7 linked regions of the Homo sapiens genome follow. The protein of the gene in region 1 interacts with the protein of each later gene in a pairwise test. Each region holds a gene or a part of one and is shown in the gene's direction. Other genes may lie near its edges. The genes, in order: MKRN3, HEXB, ZFP57, PRKAA2, TADA2A, PEX26 and STMN3.

Evidence for each region.
Region 2: the proteins of MKRN3 (region 1) and HEXB interact in binary tests that used the Homo sapiens proteins (3 or more experiments, as listed by UniProt).
Region 3: the proteins of MKRN3 (region 1) and ZFP57 interact in binary tests that used the Homo sapiens proteins (3 or more experiments, as listed by UniProt).
Region 4: the proteins of MKRN3 (region 1) and PRKAA2 interact in binary tests that used the Homo sapiens proteins (3 or more experiments, as listed by UniProt).
Region 5: the proteins of MKRN3 (region 1) and TADA2A interact in binary tests that used the Homo sapiens proteins (3 or more experiments, as listed by UniProt).
Region 6: the proteins of MKRN3 (region 1) and PEX26 interact in binary tests that used the Homo sapiens proteins (3 or more experiments, as listed by UniProt).
Region 7: the proteins of MKRN3 (region 1) and STMN3 interact in binary tests that used the Homo sapiens proteins (3 or more experiments, as listed by UniProt).

The regions. Positions count from the first base shown.
Region 1 is NC_000015.10:23,564,268-23,568,473, forward strand, and holds MKRN3 (E3 ubiquitin-protein ligase makorin-3), read left to right. Parts: upstream 1-1,406; 5' UTR 1,407-1,515; coding exon 1,516-3,039; 3' UTR 3,040-3,777; downstream 3,778-4,206. UniProt on the Homo sapiens protein: E3 ubiquitin ligase catalyzing the covalent attachment of ubiquitin moieties onto substrate proteins.
Region 2 is NC_000005.10:74,691,733-74,695,232, forward strand, and holds part of HEXB (beta-hexosaminidase subunit beta isoform 1 preproprotein), read left to right. Parts: intron 1-1,906; coding exon 1,907-1,972; intron 1,973-3,500. UniProt on the Homo sapiens protein: Hydrolyzes the non-reducing end N-acetyl-D-hexosamine and/or sulfated N-acetyl-D-hexosamine of glycoconjugates, such as the oligosaccharide moieties from proteins and neutral glycolipids, or from certain mucopolysaccharides.
Region 3 is NC_000006.12:29,675,068-29,678,152, reverse strand, and holds part of ZFP57 (zinc finger protein 57 homolog), read left to right. Parts: intron 1-786; 5' UTR 787-1,149; coding exon 1,150-1,272; intron 1,273-2,093; coding exon 2,094-2,220; intron 2,221-2,665; coding exon 2,666-2,767; intron 2,768-3,085. UniProt on the Homo sapiens protein: Transcription regulator required to maintain maternal and paternal gene imprinting, a process by which gene expression is restricted in a parent of origin-specific manner by epigenetic modification of genomic DNA and chromatin, including DNA methylation.
Region 4 is NC_000001.11:56,651,814-56,655,313, forward strand, and holds part of PRKAA2 (5'-AMP-activated protein kinase catalytic subunit alpha-2), read left to right. Parts: intron 1-3,500. UniProt on the Homo sapiens protein: Catalytic subunit of AMP-activated protein kinase (AMPK), an energy sensor protein kinase that plays a key role in regulating cellular energy metabolism.
Region 5 is NC_000017.11:37,441,386-37,444,885, forward strand, and holds part of TADA2A (transcriptional adapter 2-alpha), read left to right. Parts: intron 1-1,178; coding exon 1,179-1,267; intron 1,268-3,310; coding exon 3,311-3,383; intron 3,384-3,500. UniProt on the Homo sapiens protein: Component of the ATAC complex, a complex with histone acetyltransferase activity on histones H3 and H4. Required for the function of some acidic activation domains, which activate transcription from a distant site. Binds double-stranded DNA.
Region 6 is NC_000022.11:18,084,490-18,087,989, forward strand, and holds part of PEX26 (peroxisome assembly protein 26), read left to right. Parts: intron 1-622; coding exon 623-769; intron 770-3,482; coding exon 3,483-3,500. UniProt on the Homo sapiens protein: Peroxisomal docking factor that anchors PEX1 and PEX6 to peroxisome membranes. PEX26 is therefore required for the formation of the PEX1-PEX6 AAA ATPase complex, a complex that mediates the extraction of the PEX5 receptor from peroxisomal membrane.
Region 7 is NC_000020.11:63,643,425-63,646,924, reverse strand, and holds part of STMN3 (stathmin-3), read left to right. Parts: intron 1-2,615; coding exon 2,616-2,711; intron 2,712-2,993; coding exon 2,994-3,169; exon of another isoform or gene 3,170-3,266; intron 3,267-3,500. UniProt on the Homo sapiens protein: Exhibits microtubule-destabilizing activity, which is antagonized by STAT3.

The DNA.
Region 1 (4,206 bases):
TAGAGCCTTCTTCATTTTTCCTTGATAAATTTCACCAGAAATTATCTGGCTTCAATAAGCAGTTTAAGGGATTTTACTTAATTTATTTCCCTTATTTAATATTTGTTTTTCTTCATTGCTTTTCTTGCCCTTATTATTTGCTTCATTCTGCTTTCATTGCTTTTACCTACTTAATTATAATTTAATTTGTTGACTTGGGTGATTATAAATATTCAGATATGTTTCCACTTTACAGATTTAGGCAACAAAATTTCCTCAAAGAAACTTATAGAAAAAAAATCCAATAATATATAAAATGATATATCATGACAGAAGGGCTTCTTATTAGAAACAAATTGGTTAGTTAAATATTTGAAACTCATAGCTGCAAATAATCACATTAAGAGAATAAAGGGAAAAACAAAATTGTCTCAAAAAATGTATAAAACTACATAACAGAATTCAGTATGCAGTCATGATACGTACTCTCAGCAAAGTAGGAATACAAAAAAATGATTAATCTACTACATTTATCTGCAAAAATGACAAAACGCTCATACATGGAAATTAAAGACCATTCCTTTGTGGATAATATGGCACAGGATATGTTATGAAAGGCTGTCCTGCCACAACACAGCACAGATGGGGTTGAAAGAAAGGAAGGGAAACAAAGGGCTGCCATGAATTAAACCAGTAGAGAAAATAAAAGCCTGGGTCATGCAGGGGACAGTGTCTTATTAGGCCAGCATCAGGACTGGTTGAAGTCTGGCGCTTCTAACACAGTGGGAAAATGAGCATAGTAATCACAATAAAGAAAGACATCTGAAAGGTGCTAACTTAGCCTCGGATCAGAAGTGCTCTCTGCTAATGCCTTGCTGGTGAAAAGCGTATCCAGTGTAAGCCCTCAGAAATCCCAGAAAACAAAGACCAAAAGAAACGGCGCCTTGTCAACCGAACGAATTGAAAAAAGCTTCCTGCCGCGATCGGGCATTAAAAGAAAAAAACCACAGACATAAGATGGAGTGAATAAAAAAAGAATTTATATAATTCATGGATGAAATGTTTCAGAATCTATAGGATTATATTTTTTTTAAGGCAGACAGATACGAAAATACAACGAAGCGTGCATGACCGAAACCAGAAGAGATTAAAGTAAAACCTCATTCTCCTGAGGAAATCGTGTGAGAAGGGACTTAGGGACTGCCGGAACACAGCGAAGCAGAGGCAGAAGGCAGACAAAAGGGGCTGGGTTGGTCCCCGCCTGTGTGAACGAAAAAATATGTCAGATTGGAAAATTGCGGTAAAAACCAGGCAGAGCACGTACGTTGCCCCCACAGGAAGTGTCCGCCATGCTGCCTGTGCCCGGAAGTAGGTAGGAACACACAGTCAGAGGGACCCAAAAGCAGGGGGGAAGGAAAAAGAGATGCACACTTCCCCCAGAGAAGCCTCCGAGCGCGGCCGCCATTCCGGGCCTCAAGCCCATAAAGAAAAAATACCGGAGAGGTTCTGGCACCATTTCGGGGTGCCAAAGCAGCCATGGAAGAGCCTGCAGCTCCCTCAGAAGCCCACGAGGCAGCCGGGGCCCAGGCAGGTGCTGAGGCAGCAAGGGAGGGTGTGTCTGGGCCGGACCTTCCCGTCTGTGAGCCCTCCGGGGAATCTGCTGCTCCAGATTCAGCCCTGCCACATGCGGCAAGGGGCTGGGCCCCCTTCCCTGTAGCTCCAGTCCCTGCCCACCTCCGCAGAGGAGGCCTGAGGCCTGCCCCAGCCTCAGGAGGAGGAGCCTGGCCCAGTCCGTTGCCAAGCCGAAGCAGCGGCATTTGGACAAAGCAGATCATCTGCAGGTATTATATACATGGGCAGTGCAAGGAGGGGGAGAACTGTCGCTATTCGCACGACCTTTCTGGTCGGAAGATGGCCACTGAGGGTGGCGTTTCGCCGCCTGGGGCCTCTGCAGGTGGAGGCCCTAGCACGGCTGCGCACATCGAGCCCCCGACTCAGGAAGTGGCGGAAGCCCCCCCGGCTGCATCCTCCCTTTCCTTGCCTGTGATTGGCTCGGCTGCTGAAAGGGGTTTCTTTGAAGCCGAGAGAGACAATGCAGACCGTGGAGCTGCTGGAGGAGCAGGTGTAGAAAGCTGGGCGGATGCCATTGAGTTTGTTCCAGGGCAGCCCTACCGGGGCCGCTGGGTTGCATCTGCCCCCGAGGCTCCTCTACAGAGCTCAGAGACTGAGAGGAAGCAGATGGCTGTGGGCAGTGGGTTGCGGTTTTGCTATTATGCTTCCAGGGGAGTTTGCTTTCGTGGGGAGAGCTGTATGTACCTCCATGGAGACATATGCGACATGTGTGGGCTGCAGACCTTGCACCCCATGGATGCTGCCCAGAGGGAAGAACATATGAGGGCCTGCATTGAAGCACACGAGAAAGATATGGAACTCTCGTTTGCTGTGCAGCGTGGTATGGACAAGGTGTGTGGCATCTGCATGGAGGTTGTCTATGAGAAGGCCAACCCCAATGACCGCCGCTTTGGCATTCTTTCCAATTGCAACCATTCCTTCTGTATTAGGTGTATCCGCAGGTGGAGAAGTGCCAGACAGTTTGAGAACAGGATCGTCAAGTCTTGCCCACAGTGCAGGGTCACCTCTGAATTGGTCATTCCCAGTGAGTTCTGGGTGGAGGAGGAGGAAGAGAAGCAGAAACTTATTCAGCAATACAAGGAGGCAATGAGCAACAAGGCCTGCAGGTATTTTGCGGAAGGCAGGGGTAACTGCCCATTTGGAGACACATGCTTTTACAAGCATGAATACCCTGAGGGCTGGGGAGATGAGCCTCCTGGGCCAGGTGGTGGGTCATTCAGCGCATACTGGCATCAACTTGTGGAGCCTGTGCGAATGGGAGAGGGCAACATGCTCTATAAAAGCATTAAGAAGGAGCTTGTCGTGCTTCGGCTGGCCAGTCTGTTGTTTAAGCGGTTTCTTTCACTGAGAGATGAGTTACCCTTCTCTGAGGACCAGTGGGACTTGCTTCATTATGAGCTGGAAGAATATTTCAATTTGATTCTGTAGCATCGTGCTGTGGCATGTGGTCTAGTCTGCTGAGGTTCTGTCGTCTGCTATTGCCTGTTTTCCCTGTGTTGACACTCTTACTGCTTTCAGGGGCTGTTGAGGCAGTGCTTCTGTTTTCTTGTCTATTCTGCATATCTTTCCCCCTAGGATTATGGTGATTATCTGTGTTAAAAAATAAGTCCTTAAAGTTACTGTTTTGGTGAAATTAATATTAATGTCAGCTTATGGCTTTTTTTTGTCATCTCTGTTGTCAACAGGATTAACTCAGTTCTAGTGTAGTGTTTACTGAATTTCCACACTTATTTTGAAGACCCTCAAGAGTAAATGTGGCAGAGTGAAAGGAGAAGTTTTAATTGAACTAGTAGCTTTGTGCTATAATAGCCTTAACAAATGGACCCTTGCAGGGCTTTGCAGCTGCTCATCTGTTTGTTTACAGTTTGTTCTTTCCCTCCTTCCCCTTCAAGTGCACTTGTTAAACTGTGATGAACTTGTGATTTTGTGTTTTACTTGACCAAAACCAAGTGTATATGTTTACATGTTTTTATCCTGTTTAGCTTGACATGAAATAATTTATATTTGGAAATATATATTTAAGAATTATATATATAAAAATATATATGTATAAGAGTTATGTATTTGAAAAAAATATATAAAAGAATATACATCACAATATAATATTTATGTTTATGTAATAAAGTAAATACAGAGCTGAAAGCTGAAGGTCAAAGCCTAACAGGATTGGCTGTTGTGTGGATGTGAGTTGTGTGAATAATCTTTCTGTCCCTCGCACAGAAGCCAGTAATTAGCATCTAATGAAAAGGACTGTTCAAGTGGGTCTGGCCAAATGTGACAGATGCAGATCTTAGAGGACTTACAAAGCACTATATTGGTAATTCTTACAATGGCATTAATAGCTTACTCTATAAATACAGAAATGGTTTTCCTATGCAGTTTAGCCACCTTCTCATTAATTCTTTGTAACAGCAAATCCTAGGCTCAGAGGCACAGTGCTTTGTATTTGATATACAAAGTCTCTAGACTTTCCCAACAAGGGGCTTTTGACAAAAGAGTTCAACATAAAAGTAACAAGATTATAAAAGGGAAAATAGAACAAAAATATTAAAACCAATGAGAATAAAAGAATGGAAAGATAAAATAATAAAATAT
Region 2 (3,500 bases), on another chromosome or scaffold:
CAAAGGAGATTTTAGCCTTATCTATATTATATTGCTTTTAAACAGAATATATAGATATGTCATTTGTATATTCACCCTCCAAAACAAATGTATTTATGGTGCAAAAAGATACAGAATGGGCTAACTGAAAAGTCAATGATATAATTCCTTTCACACTTCAGGGAAGTGATCATTGTTAACACTAATAACTTGGTTGTGAAGTAAAAATGGAAATTCTATAGCTATGTGTCCATATATTTAGAAAACCAAATTTCTAATTGTTATATGTATTTTCCACTGAGTTGAATTACAGTCCTGTTTAATATCAGCCAGTTGTCAACTATTAGAAAATAATTGGTATCAAATATATGCAATATATTAATGTTTTTTAGGTGACTGTGCTATTTCTGGAAGATCTCAAAACTAGAATGTGGCAAAAAAATGTTTTTAAACAGTGACCAATGGAGCAGTGAGCTCTAGGTAGCTGATTAAGAATTTGATACAGGCTGGGTACAGTAGCTGACACCTGTAATCCCAACACTTTGGGAGGCTGAGGCCGGTAGATGGCTTGAGCCCAGGAGTTCAAGACCAGCCTGGGCAACATGGCAAAACCCTGTCTCTACAAAAAAAAAAAAAAAAAAGAAAGAGAAAAATTAGCCAGGCGTGGTGGCACATGCCTACAGTCCCAGCTACTTGGGAGGTCGAGGCTGCAATGAACCGTGATTGTGCCACTCCACTCCAGCCTGGGCAGCACAGTGAGACTCTGTCTCAACAACAACACAAGAATTTGCTATAGATGTAGAGGAAACATAATTAGACTATGCTCATAAATAGCAATATAGTTCTTAGCCTGGCATTGGCTAACTCATCTAATGGAGTGTGGTTATCTAATGGAAAAGGCTATCTTGTCAGAAGACTATCACCTGAGATGCTCACACTACTGATAGAGCACTTTTGCCTACCTGCAGCTAACTATTCTGTGAGCATCTGAATGGTGGTGGTGGTAGAAGGTGATAAACCACCCCAGAGGACACAGTATTAAATCATTAATCTCCAGCCCATCAGTGTCTTTGCCGTGGCAAAGTCCAAAGCTGTTACACCCTTTAGCTTTCAATCTCTTTACCATCTGTGGGTTTACTATGTGGTTGATTCCACTCCAGACCTCTCTAAAAGACTAAATGACTATTGGGCCAACCTTAGAGTGTGCTTCAAAGATTGAAAGATTAGCCTCTCACCAGAAGCAGCTAACTGGAGTCCCATTCTGGATGATGTGAACTTTTAATTGAGTGGGACAAAGCTGAATTATTTTTATTGAGTGAGACAAAGCTGAACTAAGCTAAAGGGATTTGGAGAGTAAGTCTTAAGGCAGATTTGGATGATACTGAGGGAAGGTGGGTACAGGGCAAGTAGAAAATTCTGAATGCAAAAGAGTGGAGATACTCTCTGGCCTTAAAGGGAGTAGATTTGAGCGACACCTAGGGCGTTACCAAGGATTAGTAGGAACTGAGGAATGTTTGCACTTTCAACTAAACTCTTAGCTTAACTAGGACCCTACTCTGTTGAGGAGAAGTTGGAGAGACTAACTCTTTTAGGAAAATGAGGAAACATGGAGTTGACACCCAAATTCCCGTTCTGAGTGACTCAAGTGACTGGATGGTGGTGCTGTGACTCACTGAAATGAGGAACACAGAAGACCAGCAGGTTGAAGTGTGCGGAGGAGGGAGGGAAGAGTTCTGTTGGGGCATGTGGAGTCGAAGGAACCTGCAGGACATCCAAATGGAGATGTACAGGAGGCAGTTAGAGAAATAGGTCATGTGCTTGGGAGAAAATAATAGTCCAGAAATATCAATGACATGTTTAGGAAACTTATTGTGTGTCATTGAGGGATTAACAAAAGTGTGTGTGTGATTTTAAATCCTCAATACAGATACTTTACTTGTGAAAGAACCAGTGGCTGTCCTTAAGGCCAACAGAGTTTGGGGAGCATTACGAGGTAAGTTCCATGCAGTTTCATTGTTACTTTCCAGTAAAGGAAAATTTTCAGTTGGTGCTTTGTGAAATTAAGCACAGCAAAACTTTGCCGCCTTAGATCCTTTACAGAATGCTTTGTTATGTAGTTCCAAAATGATTTCCATTGAACATGTACTACATAAAGCATGGGAGAGGTCAGCACAGTGGCTCACGCCTGTAATCCCAGCACTTCGAGAGGCTGAGGTAGGTGATGATTGCCTGAGCTCAGAAGTCTGAGACCAGCCTGGGCAACATGGTGCAACTCCATCTCTACAAAAAGTACACAAATTAGCCAGGCATAGTGGTGTGGACCTATAGTCCCAGCTACTCTGGAGGCTGAGGTGGGAGGATTGCTTGAGTCCAGGACGTTGAGGCTGCAGCGAGCCTAGATCACACCACTGCATTCCAGGCTGGGCAACAGAGCAAGACCCCTGTCTCAAAAAAATACAAATAAATAAATACAGCATGGGAGAAAACTCATTTGACCTCTCAAAAAATGTTTGAAGGTTATTACATTCCTGCAGTGCTGTAATTCATTGATGCTCTTGGGACTGTAATGTTTATAGCACTACACATGGCCCCAACCTGTCCTGATTAGGGAATTTTGTTTCAGCTATCACTTCTGTTGACTTCAGAAGCAAGCATCTCTCTTCCCTAATTTTAAATTCCTGTAGATTTAGAAACATAACTAAGTTTGTATAAGGAACAGTGTCAAAAGGCAAATATGCTATAGAGTTGGTTAGAGGCAGTGGGCAGGGAGTAACTTGAAAAGCTTCTCATGAGAATTTCAGAGTCTGAACTTCAAAGTTTGACCTCAGGACATTTGCTGTTCAAAAGTTTCTTTTACCTTTCTTTCTAGGCAGATAAGATACTGTACTGACTTCCGAATAGCAGAGTTTTTAGAAAGGGAATTTAAAAAAACATGAACTAACCAAACTTAGTCATTAAAATAAAGGCTTGGGATTGATCATAGTCACTCACACCTGTAATCCCACCACTTTGGGAGGTTGAGGCAGGCAGATCACTTGAGGTCAGGAGTTCGAGACCAGACTGGCCAACATGGTGAAATCCCATCTCTACTAAAAATACAAAAAAAAAATGAGCCAGGCATGGTGGCGCATGCCTGTAATCCCAACTACTTGGGAGGGTGAGGCAGGAGAATTGCTTGAACCTGGGAGAGGGAGGTTGCAGTGAGCTGAGCTGGCACCACTGCATTCCAGCCTTGGTGACAGAGCAAAACTCCATCTCAAAAAACAAAATAAATAAAGATTTGGAATCTGACTCAGAGTGTTACCTAAAATAATCATTGTTATGCTATATATTTTATACCATAAGATTATAATTTTATTCAAAATAGAATATGAAAATATCTAGATATTTACTACAAATGTAATTTTATTTATGTATAATATTAGTGATTTTAAGCTTTTATTAGTCCAATCTGCCTGTCTCATCTGCGTCTGCTAAGGAGAAGAGACGCTTTTTTTTTTTTTTTTTTTTGAGACAGAATC
Region 3 (3,085 bases), on another chromosome or scaffold:
GGCTCATGGCAACGTCCACCTCCAGGGTTCAAGTGATTCTCCTGCCTCAGCCTCCTGAGTTGCTGGGATTACAGATGTGTGCCACTATGCCCAGCTATTTTCTTTTTGTATTTTTAGTAGAGACAGGGTTTCACCATGTTGACCAGGCTGATCTCGAACTCCTGACCTCAGATGATCTGCCTACCTCAGCCTCCCAAAATGCTGGGATTACAGGTGTGAGCCACTGTGCCTGTCCTCCGGAATTTTTCATTTAATATTTTTGAACCATGGTTGACCATGGGTAACTGAAGCATTGGAAAGCAAAACCATGATAAAGGGGAACTACTACATGTATTGAAAATCCAGATCACAGAATTGTGTGTGTGTGTGTGTGTGTGTGTGTGTATAATTTTGGTCATGGAAGAGATCTTAGAGAGTGTCTCCTTTATTCTCACATTTCTGATGAAACCAAGTCAGAAAGAATAAAGAGACTCACTCGAGGTGATCTGTGACAGATCCTAGCCTGGTTACCCCAGCTACATGATTTCCAATGGTACTGAGTCTAACATTAACATTAGGTTTAAACATTAACTTTTGTAGATCAAGAATGTCCACTTGTCCTTGGAAAATTATTTAGCATCTCTGCATTAGGTCCTTAAGACAGGGCCAGTAATTGTTACCTCATTGCTGAGAGCATCCAGTGGCACACTGTAGGGGTTTAGTAACTGCTGGCATTCCCTGACCAAATAAGGAAGCTGTTTCTTACCCTCCCTCTTGCTGATATGTTTTGTTTTTCTCTGACCTCAGGTTTCTAGAAGCAGGGTAGAACAGACGGCAGACACCTAGCCCAGGCTGGTGTTGTTACTAAACAATGGCAGCTGGTGAGCCAAGGGTGACCAGGGCCCTGAACTCGGTGGCCCAGCTTTGAGGGAAGCAAAATTGTTCTCAATTGTGGAAGAGGAGAATTTGGACAGCAGAACAAAAAAGGAAGACAGCCTCTTGGAGCAGATACATTTGTCACAGGAAGCCACATCAAACCCTGGGGCCTTTGCTGGGCCTCTCCATCTGCCCAGTTACTGGGAGGTAGATAGCCCCAGGAAGGAATCCAGTCAGGCCTGGGCACCAGGCCAGGAGTGGATAAAGCTAGAAAGAGACACCACAGAAGAGAAGATGTTTGAACAGCTGAAGCCAATCGAACCTGTACAGAAGACGCTCCCATGGGTGGGCGAGGTAGCTGCCACCCTGCAGGAAGCCATGAAGAGAGATTGCTGGAGGGAGGCACGGGTGAAGAAGGTGAGGAGACTAAGCTAGAGAGAGGTGGGGTCCAGGTCCTGGACTCCAGGAGCTCTTTCATACATACTCCTGCCTGCAGGTCAAATGAAATCTCAGATTGTTCCAGACTGAACGACATCCAGAAAAAGGAGCTGCAAGACCTTTCTCCATCTCCCGCACCATCCTGGCATCCTTCATGGAGTACTTCCTGAAATTTGTTAGAGTGGCAGCATTTTTTCCTTCGCTTTGCTTTCCTGTTTATATTCTGCATATCTGCATATCCTCTTTCCTCTCCCCCACATCTTATCTTTCTCCCTTTCTCTTCATCTTTCCTTTCCTTTTTTTTTTTTTCTTTTTTTTTTTTTTGAGACGGAGTCTCGCTCTGTCACCCAGGCTGGAGTGCGGTGGCGCGATCTTGGCTCACTGCTACCTCTGCCTCCCGGGCTCAAGCAATTCTCCTGCCTCAGCCTCCTGAGTAGCTGGGATTACAGGCATGCGCCACCATGCCCAGCTAATTTTTGTGTTTTTAGCAGAGACCAGGTTTCACCATATTGGTCAGGCTGGTCTCGAACTCCCGACCTCGTGATCTGCCTGCCTCAGCCTCCCAAAGTGCTGGGATTACAGGCGTGAGCCACCGCGTCCGGCCTCCTTTCCTTTCTATACTTCACAGTTGCTGGCCTTGTGTCTGTCTTTTAATATTTCTCTCTTCCTTCCATGGTTTTATCTTTCTCTTAGGTTTTAATTCTCTGAATCTTGAGACTGGATGTTAATCTTGTACACACACACACACACACACACATATATATTTATATAAACTTCTTGAGTCTCTCCTGTTCTTCCAGAAGCCAGTCACCTTTGAGGATGTGGCAGTGAATTTCACCCAGGAAGAGTGGGACTGTCTAGATGCCAGCCAGAGGGTCCTTTACCAGGATGTTATGTCGGAAACCTTTAAGAATCTAACATCTGTGGGTAAGAGGCTGGGCTTCCCTCAGCAAGCCCCCTGTCCTAAGGGCCCTGGAACATCTGGTTTCCCTGGACAGGTAGATCAGCTTACAATTAGTTTCACTGACCCCTGGTTCTATGCTTTCCAGGTGTGAAAGATCTGAGTCACTAAGCTCAGTGGTAAAGAGAAGAAATGATAGCCTGCATGAAGGCAAAGATAACACTTGTAACATGATGACAGTGTTCTCAAAATATGCAAATTTTTCCATTCATCAAACAAATATTTACTAAGTCACTCCTGAGAACCAGGTACTTTGCTAGCAGCTGGCCTTTTAATGTCTCCTTTCCGCATCTACATGTCCCAGGTTATGGTTCTTAAACAAAGGCTACAGGAGGTAGCCTGTTGTCCCCATCAGATGTGAAGGGGCCATACCTGGGACCAACTCAACTCTTTCTCATTCCCACACATCAGCCAGAATCTTTCTGCATAAGCCAGAGCTAATCACCAAGCTTGAGCAAGAAGAGGAACAGTGGAGAGAGTTTGTCCATCTCCCAAACACAGAAGGCCTTTCAGGTAAGAATTGCCAAGCAGGGAGGAAGGGGAAAAGGGCCCAGGATAACCCCTGAAAGGATGGAGAGCTGATGAAGAGGATGAATGCTCTATAGATGCTCTCCTAGTGTACCTCTGTCCAGCCTGGTCAGACTTGGAGTTGAAAGAGAGCTTAATATCATAGGCTCAAGTCCCTTGACTTCAAGTTGAAGATCCAAGTCTCTCTCTCTCTCTCTTTTTTTTTTTTTTTTTTTTTTTGAGACACAGTCTCGCTCTGTTGCCAGGCTGGAGTGCAGTGGCACAATCTTGGCTTACTGCAACCTCCACTTCCCGGGTTCAAGC
Region 4 (3,500 bases), on another chromosome or scaffold:
GATTTCAGTGTGTTTACTGATATGAAAGTAATCTTTTTTTTTTTTTTGAGACTAGTCTGGCTCTGTCGCCCAGGCTGGAGTGCAGTGGTGCTATCTCAGCTCACTGCAAGCTCCGCCTCCTGGGTTCACGCCATTCTCTTGCCTCAGCCTCCCCAGTAGCTGAGACTACAGGCGCCTGCCACCACGCCTGGCTAATTTTTTTTTTTTTTTTTTTTTTGGAGACAGAATCTTGCTCTGTCACCAGTCTGGAGTGCAGTGGCGCGATCTCGGCTCACTACAACCTCTGCCTCCTGGGTTCAAGCGATTCCACTGCCTCGGCCTCCCGACTAGCTGGGACTACAGGCGTGCACCACCACGCCCTGCTAATTTTTTGTATTGTAGTAGAGATGGGGTTTCACCATGTTGGCCAGGATGGTCTCGATCTCCTGACCTCGTAATACGCCCGCCTCAGCTTCCCAAAGTGCTGGGAGTAAAGGCGTGAGCTATTGCGCCCGGCCTCACCCGGCTAATTTTCTGTATTTTTGGTAGAGACAGGGTTTCACCGTGTTAGCCAGGATGGTCTTGCTCTCTTGACCTTGTGATCCACCTGCCTCGGCCTCCCAAAGTGCTGGGATTACAGGCTATAAAGGTAATCTTGACTAGTGATTGCCAGTAACCTTTAGTAACCAGACTAAAGAGAACTTGTACAAATGATTTGATGTTCTAGAAGAAAACATTGGTATAAGAAGGTATTAGCTCTGGAATTAATTCCATTTCTACTACCAGTTGTCTCACCTTTGGGAAAAACCATTAGATGCTGAGCCTTTGTTTCCTCCTTCGTAATATGGCAATGATCATACTTGTCCTGCCTACCTTCTGGAATAGTTATGAAGATCAAATGAGTTGAGGTATATAAAATGGCTTTGGAAAAGATAAAATGCTATACAGATAGATGACACTTGTGGAGATGGTGAGATGCATGGCAATTGTAGGTAAATTCTGCACCCTGTGTTAGAAAGTACTTACTTTCCATTGAAATGCCTTCAGTTCTCACACCAACATTGAGATAGAGCTGTAGTAATCTGCCCCTATTTTGTGGTTGCCTAGGTTGAAGAAAGCTCTTAATGACTACTTTATCTGTGCTTTATGATACTTATTAATGTTTATATTAAAAACAATATCCTGTATGACTAAGTCATGTAATTTGCTTTTTCCCAAATATGGAAGATGAATGAAACAAGAATGAAATGGAAGTAATAGTTAAATAAAAGTGAATGTACACACATTCACAGTAAATTGATTTTACTTTTGAAATTATGCAAATTCTAAACAAGTGTTAAATATTGGTTCCAAATAATGAAATTATGTTTCTTCTCAAATACTAGATTAGTGATTGAATTAAAATCAGTTGAATTATTCTCACAATTAGGTAAATACGTGCTATTTAGGTTTCTCTTGCTGATATATATAGATATATATAATATATATATAATTTATATGATTTTTGAATTGTGTCCTTAATATCTGAATGGATTTTGTTCATTTGGTGTAGCCAGTTGATTGACTTTCAAAGGGTATTTTAAATAGGAAACAATGTTATAAATGGTAGCTATTTTCATAGTATGTCCACAAAGGCAGCCTGATGTAGTATAAATACTCTCTGTAGTATGTTGAACTTAGAAGACCTGGTGTGGAACCTTTGTTTTGTCATAAACCAGCTATGTGGTCAAACTCAATCTGTAAAAATGGGAATAATACCATATGTTCTCTTCTAGTGTTGTGAGAAGTACATGAGAAAATGTACATAGATGAAAAAGCACTCAGAAGTACTTATGTACTTTTGTGTATGTAGACACCATTATGTACTTAAACCCACAATTAGCTGAACTATGAGAATAATCTGTGATCTGGTTCTGAGACCAGAAATTTATTGATGAGAGAGAGGGAAGAATTCACTACCTCCTGTCTTGTTTTACTCTGGTCTTATTTCTGCAAATGAATGTGTTCAGAAACCTGTAATTCTCTAGAAGCTGCTCACTTTTCACCATCTTCTGTGCATCACTTGGAAGGCACAAACACATTATATATATTTTGTATACATACATATATATGTATGTATGTATTCCAGATCCCATGGTATCCATCATAGAAACTCTTGGAGGAAAGAGGCATAAGCTGGGAAGGGGGAAAGTGTGGGCAGCAGATGGCATTTAGTATGAATGGGTCATTTTAAAGTCCTGGTCCACTTGTAGTAGAACCAAAATGAGGCTATACATATATTTTCAGTTCAGATAATACACTCTGAGCTAAAAATGCTTTTCTACCAAACTTTATCTTAACATATCCATATAAATTAGAAAGGATTTTGTAGTTTGGTCATATATTGAGGTAATTACCTCAGTTCCATGAGCTTTCTCCCTTTTTCATGCTGACACAACCATGCTTTATCTTGCTTCTTTTTGTAAAAACATCCCAAAATGTCCACTTACCTTGTGGTCCATGTTAGCTTTCTTGAAAGCATTTGGTACTGCTTTGTAATAATAATACCACCCCATTTATTCTTCTGAGATTCCTGTGGTTTCCTAAATGATAGAGAAAATATTTTGTAGAGGAAGTATTAATAATTTTTGAAGCCAAGCAGATAATTTAATTTGACCTAGCAGGAAGATCTAATCTCAAATCCTTTAAGAAATAATGAGTAAGTGGCTGGCACAAGACCCTTAAAGCATTAAATATGTTATAAAAATGAGAGCAAATCTACCTAGTGTATTTATCAACTACAAATATAAGAGAAATGTAAACCTTAAATCAGGCTTTTATTTTTATCTGTTATTGAAGTGATTGAAATGCGTATGAAAAGCAATGTGTTTATTTTGAAATATGATGAACCTTTTTATTTTTAGTATGGTGTTATTAAGGAAAGAATTTCAGGCAGTTATCTCTGCTAATAATAGAAGCCTTCTTCACCCCTTCAAGGGAACAGTATTCTTGCTTAAGTGGTGTCTTATGTTTGGCAGTGTTTGCCTCTGATAAATTTTATGTATTTCTTTGGGTGGTACCTTTGTTTTTAAAATATTCATAATTCTCTTTTTAATCTGCCATTAGATCTTTTTAAACAGCCTTTTATATGATTAAAGATAATTTATAAAATCTTGCTATATGTCTCTTACTCTGAATGTTAGTATGTTATTAATATACTTTGTTTTTTCAGAATCATTTTTCTTCAGATTATATATACTATTAAAACAAGAACAGTGTGTTCTTATTCAACATCTCAGTTTCTAAATTATAAATGAATTATAAGGTAAGTTAAACTGACTGTCATAAAACAATAGATCTAACATTTTTAAATATACCATACTTTTTTTTTTCTAAATGCTTGTTTTACTTGGGCAATATGATAAGTATAAGTTATTTTCATTTTCTTTTTAAAAAAATCATTTTACTGTTTCTCACAATGTATGTATTTATATATCTATATATATATATTTTTTTTTTTTTTTTGTAGAGACAGGGTCTCA
Region 5 (3,500 bases), on another chromosome or scaffold:
TTATTAATTGCCTTGGTGTCAAGCCCAAGAATCAGTTTGTTATTTTTGTTCGCTTGGTTGTGTCAGTGATGGCGAACTTTTTAATCTCATGTGCGTGTGGGACCAGTGGGTCTCTTAATAAAATATAACCAAAAACATGATGAATTATAAATGACCATCTTTCCTGAATGACTCTCAGGGTACAAGTAATGAGATATGAATGTTTTCACTTCCCTTTTCTCTTTCCTCATACTCTCTAGAAACAGTTTTATAGCTGACTAACTTAAAGGCTGGTAATACCTCCTTTTTTTTTTTTTTTGGAGACAGAGTCTCGCTGTGTCTCCCAGGCTGGAGTGCAGTGGCACAACCTCGGCTTACTGCAACCTCCACCTCCAGGGTTCAAACGATTCTCGTGCCTCAGCCTCCTGAGTAGCTGGTACCACAGGTGCATGCCACCACACCTGGCTAATTTTTTGTATTTTTAGTAGAGAAAAGGTTTTGCTGTGTTGGCGAGGCTGGTCTCGAACTCCTGACCTTATGATCTGCCCGCCTCGGCCTCCCAAAGTGTTGGGATTACAGGTGTGAGCCACCGTGCCTGGTTGATACCTCCTATTTGGATAGCACTTTGGTGTTAGCACTTTGTTCTCAAATCCATTAGACCATTTGTTTCCTAACAGCAACCCAGTGAGATAGGCAGAGCAAGTGCTTTTGTTTTACATTCGAGAAGACCGATGCAGACAGGTTAGTTTGTGCAGGGTCATGGGACTAGTGTGTGTTGGAGCTAGGACTTAATTTCAGCTAACTTCCAATTCCAGTGTTTGTTTTTTTCCCGTCTTTTTTTTTTTTTTTTTTTTTTGCCTCTCAGTTGGATGAGTTTTGTAAATTGAAGTTCATCCTAAGGGATAAGGGAGCCGAAGCCAACGGTAAATATTTAGGTTCTGTAATATTAAAGGAAAAAAGTCATGATTTCCTTTCATTTTAGGAAAGCAGAAATCAGAAGAAATTTCCCCATATTTACTTAAAGGATTGCCTGAGTCTTGGTTTTTCTTTTTAAAAAACCTGTTTTCATAATACTTTATCTTTTTCACATTTCCTTTTATAAAAACCATTTTAAATTTTATTTATTCTTGGACTATTATGTCATTTTTTTCATGCCAATATTGTATTAGTTAACTCAGAAACCTTCTAAATTCTTCCAGCTACAGATGACCCTCCCCGACCTACCTTTGACTCCTTGCTTTCTCGGGACATGGCCGGGTACATGCCAGCTCGAGCAGATTTCATTGAGGTAGGATAAATGTGTTTTTAGCACAAAGTAGGAAAAATTCATTTTTGTTTCTCATGAGCCTTCTGTCTCACCCATAGATTCCATACCACTAAAAGGAGATTTTTCAAGGCACTATAATTTGTAGGACCTTTAGGCAGCCACATTTTCTTAGGTTTGAGTGCCTTTTCTCATTTGTAAACATTTTCACATATGGAACAGTAAAAATTCTTTAAACAAACAACCTATTTCTGGCCAGGCTCAGTGGCTTACACCTGTAATCCCAGCACTTTGGGAGCTGAGAATGGAGGATCGCTTGAGTCCAGGTGTTCGAGACTAGCCTGGGCAACGTAGTGAGACCCTGTCTCTACAAAAAATAAAAAATTAGCTGGGTGTGGTGGTGCATGCCTGTAGTCCCAACTACTTGGCAGGCTGATATGGGAGGATCACTTGAGCCTGGGAGGTTAAGGCTGTAGCGAGTGGTGATCATTCCACTAAACTGCACCCTAGACAACAGAGTAAGACCCTGTCTCCAAAAAACAAAAAAACCCCAGCAAACCCACCTCTTAAGTTGCATCAGTGCTGGCTTCCACTTCCTTAGGTATGAAATTCCTATAGTCTGGTTCTTTTTTTTTTTTTTTGAGACAGAGTTTTTGCTCTTGTTGCCCAGGCTGGAGTGCAATGGCATGGTCTTGGCCCATTGCAACCTCCACTTCCTGGGTTCAAGCGATTCTCCTGTCTCAGCCTCCCAAGTAGCTGAGACTACAGGTTCCTGCCACCATGCCTGGCTAATTTTTGTATTTTTAGTAGAGATAGGGTTTCACCATGTTGGCCAGGCTGGTCTCAAACTCCTGACCTCAGGCAATCCACCAGCCTCGGCCTCCCAAAGTGCTAGGATTACAGGCGTGAGCCACTGCACCTGGCTTGTAGTCTGGTTCTTATTGTACATCTAGGGGCTTTCAAGATTGTACTGTATCAGGGGTTGACAAACTTATTCTATTAAAGGCCAGATAGTAAATATTTTAGGTTTAGTATGCTATAAAGTTTCTATTGTAACTATACTTTGTCATTATTGTGCTAAAGCAGCATGGGATAATATAAGAATAAATGAATACGCCTGTGTTCCAGTAAAACTTTATGTACAAAAACAGACAGTAGGCTGAATAGTAGTTTACTGATTCCTGTACTATATCCACAAGTATATAAAGAATGATGAATGTGTATAAAAACTATATGTTCCTTGCTCAGCTATGGAATTAAAAGACATGTGAATGTAGCCACAAGTCTCTTGATTTATCATCTAATTCACAACTTGAAAGATAGTTTGGCCAAATGCGGTAGCTTACACCTGTAAATCCCAGCACTTTGGGAGGCTGAGGCAGGCGGATTGCTTGAGCTCAGGAGTTTGAGACCAGCCTGGGCAACATGGCAAAACGCTGTTTCTTCAACAACAACAACAAAAAAAACCCGAAACCAAAAATTAACTTGAGTGTGATGGCACATGCCTGTAGACCCAGCTGCTTGAGAGGCTGAGGCAAGAGGATCACTTGAGCCTGGGGGTTCGAGGCTGCAGTGAGCCAAGATCACACCACTGCACTCCAGCCTGAGTGACAGAGTAAGACCCTGTTTCCAAAAAAAAAAAAAAAAGAATGAATTGACTTTATTTATTTATTTCAGAGACAGGCTCTTGCTCTGTTTCCCAGGCAGTCTTGAACTCCTGGTCTCAAGTGATTTTTCCACCTAAATCTCCTGAGTAGCTGGGATTATAGGTGCATGCTACTGTGCCCAGCTCAGACTAATTTTAGTTTTTAGAGCAGTATGTTTAGCTTCATTCCTAAACTCATAACTATTCCAATTTTTTGTTGTCACTACTGCTTGTAAGCCTCTTAGATTTTTCCCATGACTTCCTATTACCTGTGCCAGTATTGTGGCCTTTTGCCATATTTAGACTTTTTAAACAACTGTTTGCTTGTGTTTTTTCTGTTTACTTCTAAAGCATGGCTGCTGTAAAGACACTAATCAAAGCCGATGGGTTTGGGGTGGGGATTTTTTTGTTCCCCTAAACAGGAATTTGACAATTATGCAGAATGGGACTTGAGAGACATTGATTTTGTTGAAGATGACTCGGACATTTTACATGGTAACAGTTTATTTTGTCAAATGTTTATCGAGCGCCAACTGTGTGATGACACTGTCTTGGGTGCTAGGAATTGAAGGATGAATAGAACATGTCCCCTGCCCTTATAGAATTCAGAAA
Region 6 (3,500 bases), on another chromosome or scaffold:
GCCTTGGCCTCCCAAAGTGCTGGGATTACTGGCATGAGCCACTGCGCCTGGCCTGAAAGGTTCTGAAAGGTTTTAAAAAACTTTTACAAAGATGCATTCAATATAGTAAATAATATATAGTCAAAATAAGTAATAAACACGAGGAAAACAATTTATATTCATGAGATTTGCAAGAGTATGTGCAGTTAAGGAATGAAGGCTTTAGCCAATACCTAATACCCTTTTACTAAACTCTTTTTTTTTTTTTTTTGAGACGGAGTTTTGCTCTTGTTGCCCAAGCTGGAGTGCAATGGCACGATCTTGGCTCACTGCAGCCTCCACCTCCCAGATTCAAGTGATTCTCGTGCCTCAGGCTCCCAAGTAGCTGGGACTACAGGCGCACACCACCACGCCTGGCTAATTTTTGTATTTTTAGTAGAGACGGGGTTTCACCATGTTAGCCAGGATGGTCTCGATCTCCTGACCTTGTGATCCACCTGCCTCAGCCTCCCAAAGTGCTGGGATTACAGGCATGAGCCACTGCGCCTGGCCTGCTCAGGTCTTAGAAGCAAGCACAGAGGTCGGGGTCAGGGAAGCTGATTCCCATGACATCCCTGAAGCTGTGCTCTGTCTCCCTGGCCAGGCTCTGTCTCCCACAAGTTCCTGTCACTACCGATGTTGGTTCGCCAGCTTTGGGACTCTGCGGTGAGCCACTTCTTTTCTCTGCCCTTCAAAAAGAGTCTCCTGGCTGCCTTGATCCTCTGTCTCCTGGTGGTGAGATTTGATCCAGGTAAGAGGTGGAGACTCTCCCCTGTCCTTCCTGGGAAGGGGTTGTTGCCAGGGCTGGGCCTGTGGGAGTGGGTGTTTGTCAGAGTCCTACTGGGGAGGGGAGTCTCTCCTATGACATTTCCCCTGAGTCTGTTCCACAAGGAGGAATTGCTAGACTGGGCATGAGCCAGCCCCACCCATAAGGAGAGGCCAGTCCTGGAGTCTATGAGAGCAGCCAGGAGAAAGTCCACTTGGCCCTGCTGACTCCTGAACATGGACTGAGTCATAGTCCTCCACTTTTTCTAGGGCTGAACTCTGACTAGAACCTCAGAATTTAAAAAAACTTCCTCTTGGCCAGGCACGGTGGCTCACGCCTGTAATCCCAGCACTTTGGGAGGCCAAGGCAGGCAGATCACAAGGTCAGGAAATCGAGACCAGCCTGGCCAACATGGTAAAGCCCCATCTCTACTAAAGATACAAAAAAAATTAGCCAGGTGTAGTGGCACATGCCTGTAGTCCCAGCTACTTGGGAGGTTGAGGCAGGAGAATAGCTTGAACCCGGGAGGCGGAGGTTGCAGTGAGCCAAGATCGCACTGCTGCACTCCAGCCTGGGCAATAGAGCGAGACTCTGTCTCAAAACAAAAAACAAAAAACAAAAAAACTTCCGCTCATCAGAATATCTACAAAAGTGTTAATTCAAGTATTAATGTCTCATGAAGTGTTAATTCAAAGCAAGTTGTAAATGAAAAACTCATACATTTTAGAAAATGTGGAAAATAGGCCGGACATGGTGGCTCACACCTGTAATCCCAGCACTATGGGAGGCCAAGGAGGGTGGATCACCTGAGGTCAGGAGTTCGAGAACAGCCTGGCCAATATGGTGAAACCCCGTCTCTACTAAAAATACAAAAATTAGCCAGGTGTGGTGGTGCGTGCCTGTAATCCCAGCAACTGGGGAGGGTGAGGCAGGGAGCATTGCTTGAACCCAGGAGGCGGAGGTTGCAGTGAGCCAAGATTGCACTGTTGCCCTCTGGCCTGGGCTACAAGAGCGAAACTCTGTCTCAAAAAAGAAAAAAAAATGTGGAAAATAGAGAAAAGTATAAAGAAGGGCATAGAAATCTGCTACTCTGCTGTGCTTTCAGTCTTTTTCTATGGATATAGAGATTGTAGGCAGTTACATGTCACACATATGCTTTCAAGCATGGCCTTAAATCGCTAACTATTCCAGTTCACAGGAATGCCCCTAAGTAATTTAACAACCCCTATTATTGAACATTTGGGTGATTATTCTGTTTTCTGCCTCGCTGTGAAGAAGGAATGAGCTCCCTAAGTGATATTTGGGAACAACCCCAGTTATTTCCTGAGGATTGACCCCTCAGGTGCATGAAGCCAAACTTGGCACTCGCTCTTTTAGATTTTTTTGTGTTACTCAGTGTGAGTTATGTTCTAATCTCTACTCTTCTCATGAATTTAGACTTAGAATATGATTAAATAAGTTTCAAAATTTAAGAGGAAATCAGAAACCCTTATACTGGTCCCTTCAAATGGTTTGTCTATTTTGAGAAGTGCCATTTGTTAACTTAGTCTTTAGATTCTCCCTGTTTCCCCATTTCTCTTTCTCTTATTCAGTGAGCTTTTTTAAAATATTTATTTATTTATTTTTATTTTTATTTTATTTTATTTATTTAGTTTTTGATACTGGGTCTTTCTCTGTTGCCCAGGCTGGAGTGCACCGGCGTGATCTTGGCTCACTGCAACCTCTGCCTCCTAGGCTCAAGCGATCTTCTCTCCTCAGCCTCCCAAGTAACTGGGACTACAGGCATGTGCCTCCATGCCCGGCTAATTTTTTATTTTTATTTTTGAGACAGAGTCTTGCTCTGTTGCCCAGGTTGCAGTGGCGTGATCTCGGCTTACTGCAACCTCCGCCTCCTGGGTTCAAGCGATTCTCCTGCCTCAGTATCCCAAGTAGCTGGGATTACAGGCACACACCACCATGCCAGGCTACATTTTGTATTTTTAGTAGAGACGGGGTTTCGCCATGTTTGCCAGGCTGGTCTCCAACTTCTGGCCTTAAGTGATCCTCTCACCTCAGCCTCCCACAGTGCTGGGATTATAGGCACAAGCCATCATGCCTGGCCAGCGAGGTTTCCGTCACATAGCTCAGAGTTGTCCTTCTAACCCGTCTGCTGAATGCTGAGCAGGGATCCCCTGTGGACGACTCTGTTTGCTTTACAAAGAAGTCACGAGTTAGCGCTCGGAATGCTCAGTATCATCAGCGTTCATCCCTGGCCACCTCCTGACTGATACAGATTTAGAAACTCTTTATGATTCTTTATGGTTCCCGTAAGCCCTTTAGTCTCGTAAACCCTGGTCTCCTAGTGGGGATGGCATGAGGACATTTGAGCCTGCTCTTTCCAAGGCTGCTTCAGAAGGGCCTGGCCCAGTGGCCCTGACCCTCAGCAGCAGGCCCGACTCATTGGAGTGATGATGGTGGGGGAGGAGAACCTGCACCTGCAGGCTGAGGATCGCATGAGCCCCAGAGATTGAGGCTGCAGTGAGCTGAACACAGACTGCACTGTACTCTAGCCTAGGTGACAGAGCGAGACCCTGTCTCTAAAAAAAACAAAACAAAACCAACTATGTGTAATTGGTAGTGGAGTCTCCCAGGGTGGGAGATGGCAGAGTGACAGGTGAGAGGGGTGGGACGTTCACTGTAGTCTCCCTCTGCCCTGCAGCTTCCCCTTCCTCCCTGC
Region 7 (3,500 bases), on another chromosome or scaffold:
AAAATTAGCCGGGTGTGGTGGCATGTGCGTGTAATCCCTGCTACTTGGGAGGCTGAGGCAGGAGAATCGCTAGAACCCAGGAGGCGGAATTGCAGTGAGCAGAGATAAAAAAAAAAAGAAAACTGGTGTGCTGGCATGCACCTGTAGTCCCAGCTGCTAAGATGGCAGGATCCGTCAAGCCCAGAAGTTCAAGGCTGCAGTGAACCGCACAGCTGCACCCTACACTCCAGCATGGGCAACAGAGCACAGTCCTGTTTCTAAAAAATAAAGTAGGCCAGGCACAGTGGCTCACACCTGTAATCCCAGCACTTTGGGAGGTCGAGGCGGGCGGATCACGAGGTCAGGAGATCGAGACTATCCTGGCTAATATAGTGAAACCCCGTCTCTACTAAAAATACAAAAAATTAGCTGGGTGTGGTGGCGGTGCCTGTGGTCCCAGCTACTCGGGAGGCTGAGGCAGGAGAATGGTGTGAACCCAGGAGGCGGAGCTTGCGGTGAGCCGAGATCGCACCACTGCACTGCAGCCTGGGCAACAGTGCAAGACTCCATCTCAAAAAGAAAAAAAGAAAACTTGACAAGTCAGACCAAAGTCCCCTGTGAGGCTCCCCCACCTGGTCCCCCTCCATCTCCCTCCCTGAAGACAATGACCAAGACAGGTAGCTTTGCCTCGCTTCCCGGCTCAAAGTCTCATTCCTTCCCCCAAAGGCTCTCGCACGGGCCTGCCCACCCTGGGATTCCTTTCTGCTCCTCCTTACACCCTCTTGGGCTCTGTGCTGCTCTGTCCAGAAAAGTGTAGGTCACCAGGAAATTTAAGTCAGGACAGACCATTCTCTGCACTGTCACCAGAAGACCCAGCTCACCATGAAAGGCTTGATTACTTCTGCCTTGTCTGTCTTCCTTTCCTTTCCTTTCTTCTTTTCCTCCCTCCCTCCCTCCTTCCTTTCTTCCTCTCTCTCTTTTTCTTTCTGTTTTGAGACGGAGTCTCACACTGTCACCCAGGCTGGAGTGCGATGGCGCGACCTCGGCTCACTGCAACCTCCGCCTCCCAGGTTCAAGCGATTCTCCTGCCTCAGCCTCCCAAGTAGCTAGGATTACAGGTGCCTGCCACCACGCCTGGCTAATTTTTATATTTTTAGTAGAGATCGGGTTTCACCATGTTGGTCAGGCTGGTCTCAAACTCCTGACCTCAGGTGTTCCACCTGCCTTGGCCTCCCAAAGTGCTGGGATTACAGTTAAATGAGCCACTGCACCCAGCCAAAAGGATTATCGAGCACTAGTGAGAAACCGGGCCAGCGTGTCTGCTTAGGAATGAGGTTCGCCCTGAATAGACCAAAAGAGCTAAATTATTTTCACTGTGACAGCAGGCGCCTTCCTCTTCCCCTGACAGGGCACAGGGCCACAGGAGCCCGGCTTGCTTCTGGTTTGGGTTGGGCAGCAGGGACACTGGCTGGTGGGCACTTGATTGACCTGAATGGGCAAGAGGGCTGGCTGTGGTGCTGAACGGACAGCTTCCCTCCCTTGCTCCTTGGTGGCATCAGTGGCCCAAGCCCAGCCCTAGATAGACAGAGAGCATGTGCCTGGAGAGGGCCTGGTTTCATCTCAAGGTGACCACACAATCATTGGGAAGGAAAAAGGAGGGTCTGAGGGCTTCATCCAGGTTTACAGCCCAAGAAAGTCCTGCCCACAGAGGGTTTGCATCTGTGCTGGTCCCGTCATGAGTAAATCTTGCCTGCTTGAGCTGGCGAGGAGTGGGAAGGAGGAGGAGGGGAGAGAGAAGTAGCGGGACAGAGGGAGGTAAGAGTCAGAAAGACACACAGTGACAAGGAATCACAGAAAGATGCACTCAGGGAGAAAGACAGAGTCAGGGGCTACCCCCAGAGACACAGAAAGATACAATGACAGTGACAGAGTCAGACACACAGAAGGTAAACAGAGACCCAGACAGGCAGGGGTAGCCACTTTGTCAGTCTGGGCAGGTACCTGAGACTGAGTGGTTTATAGACGACAGGAACTTATTTCCCATCGCTCTGGAGGCCAGAAAGTCCAGGATCAAGGTGCCGGCAGAGTCGGTGCCTGGAGAGGTCTCGCCTCCTGGTACATAGACGGGTGGCGTCTTCTGGCTGTGTCCTCACATGATGGAAGGTGAGGGAGTTCTCTGAAGCCCCACTCTGGGGCCACTTAGGAGGGCTCTATCCTCATGGCCTAATTCCCTCCGAATGCCTCACCTCCGCACACCGGCACCTTGGGGTTACGATTTCAACACATGAGTTTTGGGTAATGGAAACATTCAGACCACAGCAGGCAGGAGAAGGATGGAGAAACAAGTCAGTGTGGAAGATGAGACAGACATTAATGCCGAGAGAGAGGAAAAGCGGGGAGAGGCAGAGGGCGAGAGAGACAGAAGGCAGGGGACACACCACGGAGACAGTGCCGACGTCTGGAAGCGAGAGAGCTGGAGAGACGAAGGGGCCGGCGGTGTGGAGACACACAAGAGAGCGTGCTGGGCAGCTCCGTGTCTCACAGAGACATGATAGAGGCAGCCATGGGGAGGGAAAACGGGGGCCCAGGTGGGCAGGCCCCAGTGGTGCTTGCTCAGCCCAGCCTTGTGCCCACAGCCTACAAGGAGAAGATGAAGGAGCTGTCGGTGCTGTCGCTCATCTGCTCCTGCTTCTACACACAGCCGCACCCCAATACCGTCTACCAGTACGGGGGTGAGTGCCTGGCTGCCGCCTGCCCTTCCCTGCGGTGCCTGCCCACCTCACCTTTTCCCCCGGCCTCCGGCAGTCTCTCTGAACTCCCGTCCTGGCTGCCTCTGGAGAGGGAGGTTCTAGGGGGAAGGGGCCCATCCTGGGGGCTGAAGCCTGGGATTCCTGCGGGAGCAGCCACCCCCTCTCGCCCAGCCCTGGGGTTGGATGTGTGCTGGGAGCATCCCGCTCAGCCCACGCCATGCCCTGGCCGGGCCTCTGAAGCTCTACTCTGGTCTTGCCCTGCAGACATGGAGGTGAAGCAGCTGGACAAGCGGGCCTCAGGCCAGAGCTTCGAGGTCATCCTCAAGTCCCCTTCTGACCTGTCCCCAGAGAGCCCTATGCTCTCCTCCCCACCCAAGAAGAAGGACACCTCCCTGGAGGAGCTGCAAAAGCGGCTGGAGGCAGCCGAGGAGCGGAGGAAGGCAAGGAGTCCTCCATCCCCCACCCCCCAGGAGTTTCAACGGAGGCGGCCCACGGGGACAGGGCCTGCAAGAAGCAGGGTGCTCCCGGACAGGCTTGGTCAGTGCCTTGGCCTGGAGCAGGAGGGGCTGTGGCTCCCTGGGCCTCTTTCTGAGAGATAAGAATGGGATGGGGAGAGGCCGGGTGTGGTGGCTCACGCCTGTAATCCCAGAACTTTGGGAAGCTGAGGCAGGCAGATCACTTGAGGTTGGAAGTTCAAGATCAGCCTGGCCAACATGGTGAAACCCCATCTGTACTAAAAATACAAAATTAGCCAGGTGTGGTGGTGCACAC